Linked DNA regions of Homo sapiens: region 2 is reported to be linked to region 1. The links are microRNA targets in miRTarBase. Many come from high-throughput screens and were not tested one by one. Region 1 holds a microRNA gene; the other region holds the end of a gene's coding sequence.
Evidence for each region. Region 1 holds the annotated microRNA hsa-miR-4753-5p (CAAGGCCAAAGGAAGAGAACAG, at 1,737-1,758, opposite strand). A microRNA usually pairs through its seed, bases 2 to 8, with sites in the 3' UTR of a target mRNA and lowers its output. Matches are read on the target gene's strand: a 7mer-m8 pairs with bases 2 to 8, a 7mer-A1 pairs with bases 2 to 7 and ends in A, and an 8mer does both.

Region 1 (5,176 bases):
CATAGAAACCTCAATAATTACTGACTGCCCTAGTGCCTATGAAAATTAAAAAGGGCAGTGGGGAGCCTCATACAAGGAGCACTGGGTGAAGACTAAAAATTACTTAGATGCCTAGATCCCCACCTCACTTCAGGTTGGAAGGTGACTGCCCTTCTAGAGCTTTATTCTCTGAAGACAGTAGGAGAGGGCTCCTAGCCTGGGAGATGCTAACAACTGTTGAAGGCACAGGTACAGATGCGATGCTGAAATTAGGGGGATTCATGAACATATCTAACCACTAAGAATCCTCCACCCCACTCTCTGTTCTTCAACTAGATCCTAGAACACTGGAAACCATTCTCTTACCACCCTCCAGTCAAGAGATTGGAACTCTTTTCTCTGGAAGCCAACTAGTCTAAGAGAAAAAGACCTAAAGACTTCATATTATGAATTCCCTAGGACATGGCCAACCAGATCACCCGATAGTGAAACTCAAGGTCAACAAGTGCCAACCATATGCTTGCAATTTCCAAATCAGTTTAGTCTTTCCTTCATAATCATAAGACAGCCAGGAAAAAAAATTCTTAATAGGGAAGAGCTCAAAACAACAACACAGAAAAAAGCAAATTAGAGGTAACTGAAAAAACCAAAAATTATAAAATCCTTTGAAAGATCAAAATCCGAAAGGTAAGGTATTGCATCCATCTATAAGAACAGAGTGGTACAAAACACACAGAAAACAGAGCTCTTGAAAAATTAAACTAGTTTAATTTAAAAATATTCATTGAAAGGCTGGGCGCAGTGGCTCACGCCTATAATCCCAGCACTGTGGGAGGCTGAGGCAGGTGGATCACAAGGTCAGGAGTTCAAGACCAGCCTGGCCAAGATGGTGAAACCCCATCTCTACTAAAAATACAAAAAATTAGCTGGGTGCGGTGGCAGGCGCCTGTAATACCAGCTACTCGGGAGGCTGAGGCAGGAGAATCGCTTGAACTTGGAGGGCAGAGATTGCAGTGAGCCGAGATCATGCCACTGCACTCCAGCCTAGGCAACAGAGTGAGACTCAGTCTCAAAAAAAAAAAAAAAAAAAAAAAAATCATTGAAAACTTAAACATTACAGCAAAAAGTCAACAAAAGGATTAAAAGACAAAGCAGATAAAATTTCAAAGAAATAAAAAGACAAAAAAATTAATAAAAAGCAAGAAATTAAAAGGTGAGCATATTAGAGTATATTACAGAAGGTATAATATCAAATAATGGCTGGCCAAAGAAAGATAACAGCCAAGTGCAGTGTCATGCACCTATACCCCAGCTACCCAACTACTTGGGAGGCTGAGGCAGGAGGACTGCTTGAGCCCAGAAGTGTGAGAACAGCCTGGGCTGAACATAGTGAAACACAGTCTCAATTAAAGAAAAAAAAAAATTTGGCAGGGCTGGGACAGTAGCTCATGCCTGTAATCCTAGCACTTTGGGAGGCTGAGACAGGAAAATCGCTTGAGCTCAGAAGTTTGAGACCAGCCTGGGCAATATAGTAACACCTCATCTCAAAAATAGTAACAATGAACAAAAATTAAAAAGGAGAGAACAGTAAAATGCAGGAGAGGAAATCATCAAGAAAATCATTCAAAAAAACTGCCTAGAACAGAAAGACAGAAGTTGCTAGAATGAAAGAGTCTAGCAAGTAGGCATCACAGGGGATGAAAATATATCTACACAAGGCTAAAGAAAGAGAACAGCCAAGTGTACTGTGGATATATCTGTTCTCTTCCTTTGGCCTTGTGTAGATATATTTCAGAGTTAAATTTCTGGATACGAAAAACAAAGATTCAAGATTCCTAGCAGGGCATGGTGGCTCATGCCAGTAATCCCAGCACTTTGGGAGGCTGAGGTGAGTGGATCACTTGAGGTCAGCAGTTCGAGACCAGCCTGGCCAAAATGGCAAAACCCCATCTCTACTAAAAATAGAAAAACTAGCCAGGCGTGGTGGCAGGCCCCTGCAATCCCACCTACTCGGGAGGCTGAGGCAGGAGAAACACTTGAACCCAGGAGGCAGAGGCTGCAGTAAGCCAAAATTGTGCCACTGCACTCCAGCTTGGCCAACAGAGTGAGATTCCATCTCAAAAAAAGAAAAGAAAAAAAAAAGATTCCAGAGACAGAAAAGCAAAAAATAAAGAATAAAACAAGTCACATACAAAGAATCAGGAATTGGAAGAGCTCTGGACTTCACAAAAGCAATACTGGAAGCAAAAAAACAATTCAACACTGCCAATAAAATACTGAAGGAAAAACTTCCAATCCAGCCAAACTATGAATAGAATAAAGATATTTGCAAAAATAAATACAGATATTTAAATGCAGCCAATCTCTAAAAATTCCATCTCATGCACTTGTTCTTTAGAAGCTACTAGAGAATGTGCTCCACCAAAATGAAAGTATGGGGGTGGGGAGGAACCTGAGATGCCAAAAACAAAGAAATCCAAGAACTACATTAAAGGAGATCCCTAGAATGGGATCTCCCTAGGAAAATAGCTGTGCAACAGATATAGAGGGAAACCAGTCCAGACTACAGCAGTGTTATTTCCAAAGAAAGTCATACTGCAGGCTATTATCATTAAGCTACCTGCTACCGCCTCTCTGTAGTCTTTGAATGCCTGAGTGACCCAGACTGGATTTTAAAATCTGTATTTATCTTGTTTCAACTATGTGTCAATGAAATTCCAGCTCTCCCTTCCATGTCTTATGTGCCACTACCTAGATCAGCTAATGACATCATTTTATCCAGCAGAAACATTCTGACCTACTTGTGAAAAATAGGGGTAAATCACCATAAGCCTAGAATGAGAATATATATAGAGTAGTCTGCTACTACGACTGAGCACACTCCCACATAACATCCACTGCGAATGTGTCACATATTCTTTTTATTTTATTTTTTTTAAGATGGAGTTTCGCTGTTGCTACCCAGGCTAGAGTGCAATGGTGTGATCTTGACTCACTGCAACCTCTGCCTCCTGGGTTCAAGCGATTCTCCTGCCTCAGCCTCCCAAGTAGCTGGGATTACAGGCACCCACCACCACACCCGGCAAAGTTTTTGTATTTTTTTTTTTAGTAGAGACAGGGTTTCACCATGTTGGCCAGGCTGGTCTCAAACTCCTGACCTCAGGTAATCTGCCCGCCTTGGCCTCCAAAAGTGCTGGGATTACAGGAGTGAGCTACTATGCCCAGCCAAATGTGTCAGATATTCTAACTGTAGTGGACCCCTAGGTTTATCAGAACTGGCTTATGACCTGTCCAACTGAATTCTCTAGAGGGGCTTTTGTAAACTCTCAGAGAAGCTAAATCTGAAATCAGAGTATGACTTAGAATCTCTATTCAGGTAACATTCTCAGAAAGCCTTCATCTGAGCCTTCTTATAAAACTAGGCTTATGCTTGTTACTCAATTTTTAAAAAACTAAAAAACAGGCTGGGTGCAGTGGCTCATGCCTATAATCCTAACACTTTGGAAGGCTGAGGCAGATGGATTGGATTGCTTGAGTCCAGGAGTTTGAGACAAGCCTGGGCAACAGGGTGAAACCCCATCTCTACAAAAACTACAAAAAATAGCCTGGCATGGTGGCACACACCTGTAGTTCCAGCTACTTAGGAGGCTGAGATGGAAAGGTCGCTTGAGCCCAGGAGGTCACTTGAGTCGTGATAGCACCACTGCACTCCAGCCTGGGTGACAGAGCGAGACTCTGCCTCAAAAACAAAAACAAAACAAAAAAACACCCTAAAAAAATGAAGTAAAATAAAAATTACTTAGGAATATAAATATAGATAATTCAATTCTGAAGAAAAGTAAAGCAAGGATTACACAAAAGTCCAGACTATAATTACTTCTGGGAGGAGACATACTACGAAGTAAAATAAAAATTACTTAGGAATATAAATATAGATAATTCAATTCTGAAGAAAAGTAAAGCAAGGATTACACAAAAGTCCAGACTATAATTACTTCTGGGAGGAGACATACTACATGTTTTAAGTAAATAGTATTTGATTGCTACTGTGGAGACATACTAGTATCCATATTATTACTGTTCTTTAAACTATACATGTATTTTCCATGCACTATTTGCATGTAGGATACATGGGAAAATTTTTTAAAAATCAATTTAAAAATATTGCCCTAATTAGTACAGTGGTGAGTAAATAAAAATATAGTACAGCATTTGGTTTATAAAATAATGAGTTAATATAAACACACATCTACAATAAGAAACAAAAACTAGCTTCTATTAACATTCAAAATAAGTAAAAATGAAACCTCTTTTAAGTTATGAGAAATGATAAGATATTTTTATGGAGATCCATTCTTTTATCTCATAGATATGTCCCCTTCCCTGCCAGTCAGATTTAATAAATCTCTGCTCCAATCCTCATTGCTTTTATTACCTATACTTCATTTTGCCTTAAATACTAAGCAATAATCCCATCATAAAAGAGGTCATGTCAGGCCAGGCGCGGTGGCTCACGCCTGTAATCCCAGCACTTTGGGAGGCCAAGGTGGGCGGATCATAAGGTCAGGAGATCCAGACCATGGTGAAACCCCATCTGTACTAAAAATACAGAAAATTAGCCAGGCGCAGTGGCGGGCGCCTGTAGTCCCAGCTACTCAGGAAGCTGAGACAGGAGAACAGTGTGAACCCGGGAGGTGGAGCTTGCAAGTGAGCTGAGATTGCGCCACTGCACTCCAGCCTGGGTGACAGAGCGAGACTCCGTCTCAAAAAAAAAAAAAAAGCAGTCAGTCCAGGTGCAGTGGCTCCTGCCTGTAATCCTAGCACTCGGGAGGCTAAGACAGGCCAATTGCTTGAGCCTAGGAGCTCGAGACGAGCCTGGTCAACAGGGCAAAACCCCGTCTCTAGAAACAATATAAATATTAGCCGGGCATGGTGGCATGCGCCTGCAGCTCCAGCTCCTTGGGAGGCTGAGGTGTGAGGATCTTTAGAGTCTGGGAGGTTGAGGCTGAAGTGAGCTGAGATTGCACCACTGTACTCCAACCTAGGCTACAGAGTGAGACCCTGTCTCAAAGAAACAGAGATCATAATAGTCATAATCAGGACAAACAAAGTTTGGTGTTCTTTACAACAACTTGTCAGTATACTTTTATGGTCTGATGTTGTATAACACAAACTATGCATTACATTGCAACAGAAA
Region 2 (5,000 bases), not on the chromosome of region 1:
TACTCATACATGCCCTGCTCTTGTTTACACTGCCGGTTTACACTGTTTCTCCAAGCCATCACAGCTGATATCTCCTGGTGCTATCCCCAAACTGCCACTCTTAACTCTTGAAGTAAATAAATAATCTTTGCTGGCAGGACTATGCTGAATCTCCTTAGGCACTCTCTAATCAGATATCCTGAGTCATCCCAATTCTTAGACCTTTTATACCTGTTTTTCTCCTTCTGTTATTCCATTTCGTTTCTCAATTCACCCAAAACCGTATCCAGGCCATCACCAATCATTCTATACGACAAGTGTTTCTTCTAACACCCCCACAATATCACCCCTTACCACAAGACCTCCCTTCAGCTTAATCTCTCCCACTCTAGGTTCCCACGCCACCCCTAATCCCGCTTGAAGCAGCCCTGAGAAACATCGCCCATTCTCTCTCTCCATACCACCCCCAAAAATTTTTGCCGCCCCAACACTTCAACACTATTTTGTTTTATTTTTCTTATTAATATAAGAAGGCAGGAATGTCAGGCCTCTGAGCCCAAGCCAAGCCATCGCATCCCCTGTGATCTGCACCTATACACCCAGATGGCCTGAAGTAACTAAAGAATCACAAAAGAAGTGAATATGCCCTGCCCCACCTTAACTGATGACATTCCACCACAAAAGAAGTGTAAATGGCCGGCCCTTGCCTTAAGTGATGAGATTACCTTGTGAAAGTCCTTTTCCTAGCTCAAAAAGCACCCCCACTGAGCACCTTGTGACCCCCCACTCCTGCCCGCCAGAGAACAAACCCCCTTTGACTGTAATTTTCCTTTACCTACCCAAATCCTATAAAACGGCCCCTCCCTTATCTCCCTTCGCTGACTCTCTTTTCGGACTCAGCCCGCCTGCACCCAGGTGAAATAAACAGCCGTGTTGCTCACACAAATCCTGTTTGGTGGTCTCTTCACACAGACACGCATGAAACGGATCACTCACAACATAGCCCTTGCTGGAGATGTGTTCACAATCCTAAAAACTCCATGAGAAAGCCAACTACCATTAGGAAAGTCAACAGACACAGCTAACAGAAAAATTAGCATTCTCCAAAACTCAAAAAAATAGAATTGAGACTATAAAATATGGTTAAAATGATTCATAAAAAGAATAAAAACTATAATAAAAAATTATGAAAAAGATAAATTTGAGAAAGAATCAAAGACAACTTCAGAAACAAAAAAATGAAGCCTAAAAAGTTCAATGGCTGGAATAAACAGATAAGACAGGGCTGAGAACAGAATCAGTGAGATAAATACGAAGGAGTTAACTGAGAATATAGTGTGGAGAAACCTAAAATACATGAAACAGGACAGGTTCAACACAGGTATAAAAGAAACCCCAGAAGGAAAGAACAGACAGTGGGGATGAGATAATACTCAACAAAATAAGAACATCCAAAATTTTCTTAATGAAGAACACAGAGATAAGACCTGAACAAGAGGAATAAAAATAAATCCATATCTAGGCGTGGTGGTGTGCACCTGTAATCCCAACTACTCAGGAGGCTGAGGCAGGAGAATCGCTTGAACCTGGGAGACAGAGGTTGCAGTGAGCGGAGATTGCACCATTGCACTCCAGCCTGGGCAACAACAGCGAGACTCTGTCTCAAAAAAATAAATAAAATAAAATAAAATAATAAAATAAATCCATACCTAAACAGAGGTGAAAACAAACACTGAAGACAAAACAAGGGGAAAATGTGAATCATGCTTGTTATCAAATAAATAATCCAAAAATGTATATATATGCTGTATGCCTAACATCAATTTCATGCGGAGATGCTGATTTTAATACACAGGATGGCAGCGTGCCCTCTAGCTCACTCACATTCTGCGGGAATGGGTTTAGGTGCAGCTCAATTTCAGAAAACCTCAATTTAGTCCAAAGTTTGTCAGTCTAAACAGACTCAGGAATCTACTACTGCCACACATCCAGGGGCAACAAACTGTTTATGTTGAGCCCTGCATTTGTACTCTCAATTTCCCCAGCATACACACTATTCTACTATGTTACAACTGCCAATTTTTCTTAATGCCCAAATTAATTCAAGTGTTGGCTTTTATAACCTAATTTATCCAGCAATAAAAGCACCTAGAATGTATTTTGATGACAAGAACCCCATCTTGTGGCAAAATGTTTCACAGCTGAGTTTGGCTGTGTACTGTAATGCCATTCCCACTCTGAAGATAAATCTGCGTTGAGAAGTTATCATTTTATCTGCTTTACCAGACAGAATTTCTAACCCAGCATTTATCTTGTGTCTGCGACGGCACCAAAGTATGCAGTAAATCTGCGGAACACAGTAATTCTGGGGCTTTGTGAGTTATTTTCAAGTGAAAGCTGGTAGTCTTTGTGCAGCTTACTGCAGGAATATTTTAAGAGAAAAACAAACACTGACTAGGGTTAGCTTCTGAAATATTATCTGTCCATTCTAGGAAGAGTTCAGATATTGCACTTCCTATAAGATGAACTCACTTAACTAAAGCAATCAAGACAAAACCTCCCCAAATCCACACGAATTGACACCATAATTAGCACCATACATAATAAAGCTACCCCACACACAGCACATTCGTATTTCATAGCATTCATGTTATTTTTCTAAAAGGTGGCTTTTAATCAATTTCTCGGCCCTTCCTATTTTAAAAGACAGTAGAATTACATTCTAAAATATTCTTCCCATTTTTTCTTTTACTAGGAATGTCCAGCATGGGAAACATGACAAAATGCTCTCTACGAATACAAAAACATTAGCCGGACATGGTGGTGTGTGCCTGTAGTCCCAGCTACTTGGGAGGCAGAGCCCAGGAGAGGTCAAGGCTGCAGTGAGCTAAGACCGTGCCATTGCACTACAGCCTGGGCAACAGAGTGAGATTCTGTCTTTAAAAAAAAAAAAAAAAAAAAAGGAATGTCTTCCTCAATGTTTTCTACTGTTCCTATTTGGTTTTCCTGAAGAAATTTTAAAAGGCCTTATTGTTAATAAGCTAAAAAATGTAATGAAGCATTGAGCATGATATCTGGCTCAAAAACATTAGTTATTATTATTGCTTTTATTATTGTTGTTATTAATGACAATTAAATACTGAAAGACCCCCAAAATAGCTTATCTTCCACAACTGGCAAAGCCTTAAAGAAAAATCCAGTTCAAAGAAGTCAAATTATATTTTTATCAAAAGCAAAACTGAAACAATACTTTTCTCCCCTCAAAATCTGTTTTTAAAGCGTTAAAAAGGACAGTATATCAATATTAAAAGAGCTTTTTTATTTGTTAATGTCACATAAGAAATTTAAGCAAGTTACACTATCTTAAAAAACACAACGAATGCATTTTAATAGAGAAACCCTTCCCTCCCTCCACCTCCCTCCCCCACCCTCCTCATGAATTAAGAATCTAAGAGAAGAAGTAACCATAAAACCAAGTTTTGTGGAATCCATCATCCAGAGTGCTTACATGGTGATTAGGTTAATATTGCCTTCTTACAAAATTTCTATTTTAAAAAAAATTATAACCTTGATTGCTTATTACAAAAAAATTCAGTACAAAAGTTCAATATATTGAAAAATGCTTTTCCCCTCCCTCACAGCACCGTTTTATATATAGCAGAGAATAATGAAGAGATTGCTAGTCTAGATGGGGCAATCTTCAAATTACACCAAGACGCACAGTGGTTTATTTACCCTCCCCTCCTCATAAGAACTTAAAAAAAAAGAAAAAACACACATACAAAAAAAGTCAAAAAATTTGAGGAACCCCTTCCGAACAGTACACAGTTATTAAGTTCAGTGTCAATAATTCACATCTTGCAACAAAGTGTATGGACATGATTTCTTTTACAAAACTTTCAGTGTCAAAAAGGAAATTAAGGCCATCAGATTTGCAGCTTAAAAATTCACATAAAGGAAATATAAAAATATTCTGTGCTTCTGAGAAGGCTCTGCACTGTATACAGGTAAAGATTACCATACTTCTTTATTTTGAGGAAGACAGTTGAAAATTTTACATAATTGCACAGCTTCTATTGGATGCTCTTGGGGTTCCCTGATGAGGAAAACAGAAGGAAAAATTAATACTAAAGAAATAGATCACAGTATTCTAAAATAAGACAAAAACTTTTAACTACAGGGATACCAAACCATATTACCTAACCTCAAATGGACCCTTTATCATCTCTCATCTTTTCTAACCTTTTCTTTTTTTCTTTTTCTTTGTTTGTTTGAGATAGAGTCTCACTCTGTTGCCCAGGCTGGAGTGCAGTGGTGCAATCTTGGCTCACTGCAACCTCTACCTCCTGGGTTCAAGCGATTCTCATGCCTCAGCCTCCCGAGCAGCTGCGACTACAGGTGTGCATCACCACCACGTTAGCCAGGCTGGTCTTGAACTCCTGGCCTCAAGTGATCCACCTGCCCTTGGCCTCCCAAAGTGCTGGGATTACAGGCGTGAGCCACCGTATCTGGCCTCTAACCTTCTTTTATGGACTTCTTTCTAGAATACCCCCCAACAAATTCCAGAACAGTAATTGTCAACTCTGGCTACACATTCAGATCCTGAGGAGTTTAAAACAAATTCTGATCTAGGTCCCTTGATCAATCAAATAAGAATTTCTCATTTTACTGGGAAAGGGTAGCTATCTATATATAATTTTAAAGTAATTCTAATGTGCAGCTCAATTTGAAAACCATTGTTCAATAACCTCTTTTGATAACTTAGGAAATAGGAGATCAGTGGATCAGCTTTTAACAACCACATCGGAGACTACAGCTTGCTAGATCCTGAACTTACACATCCCAAGCCATCTGCAGTGGATTTGTCCTCCAAGGTGAAGTCAACATGGCTCCTCTACCCATTTCTTTATCACTCATTAATTTCATATAACCTCACAATATGACTTGTGACTCACCACTGATTGAACTAAAACTGGTTTTTTGAAGGTCACCAAAATATTTCTAATCAATTCAAAAGGCGA

Region 2: the mRNA of LMNB1 is a reported target of hsa-miR-4753-5p. Seed matches in the 3' UTR shown: 8mer at 3,898-3,905.

The regions. Positions count from the first base shown.
Region 1 is chr1:235,188,350-235,193,525 of GRCh38, forward strand. It overlaps MIR4753 (microRNA 4753), which reads right to left and starts at 1,767; the gene lies at 1,685-1,767. All of the region lies in intron 19 of ARID4B (AT-rich interaction domain 4B), which reads right to left.
Region 2 is chr5:126,835,298-126,840,297 of GRCh38, reverse strand. It overlaps LMNB1 (lamin B1), which reads right to left. Exons shown (of 11, transcript NM_005573.4): 11 at 3,278-4,075. The coding sequence ends at 4,034. Among named protein-coding and RNA genes, the nearest start is that of LMNB1, 61 kb to the right of the region's middle. RefSeq lists enhancers at 1-697, 698-1,442.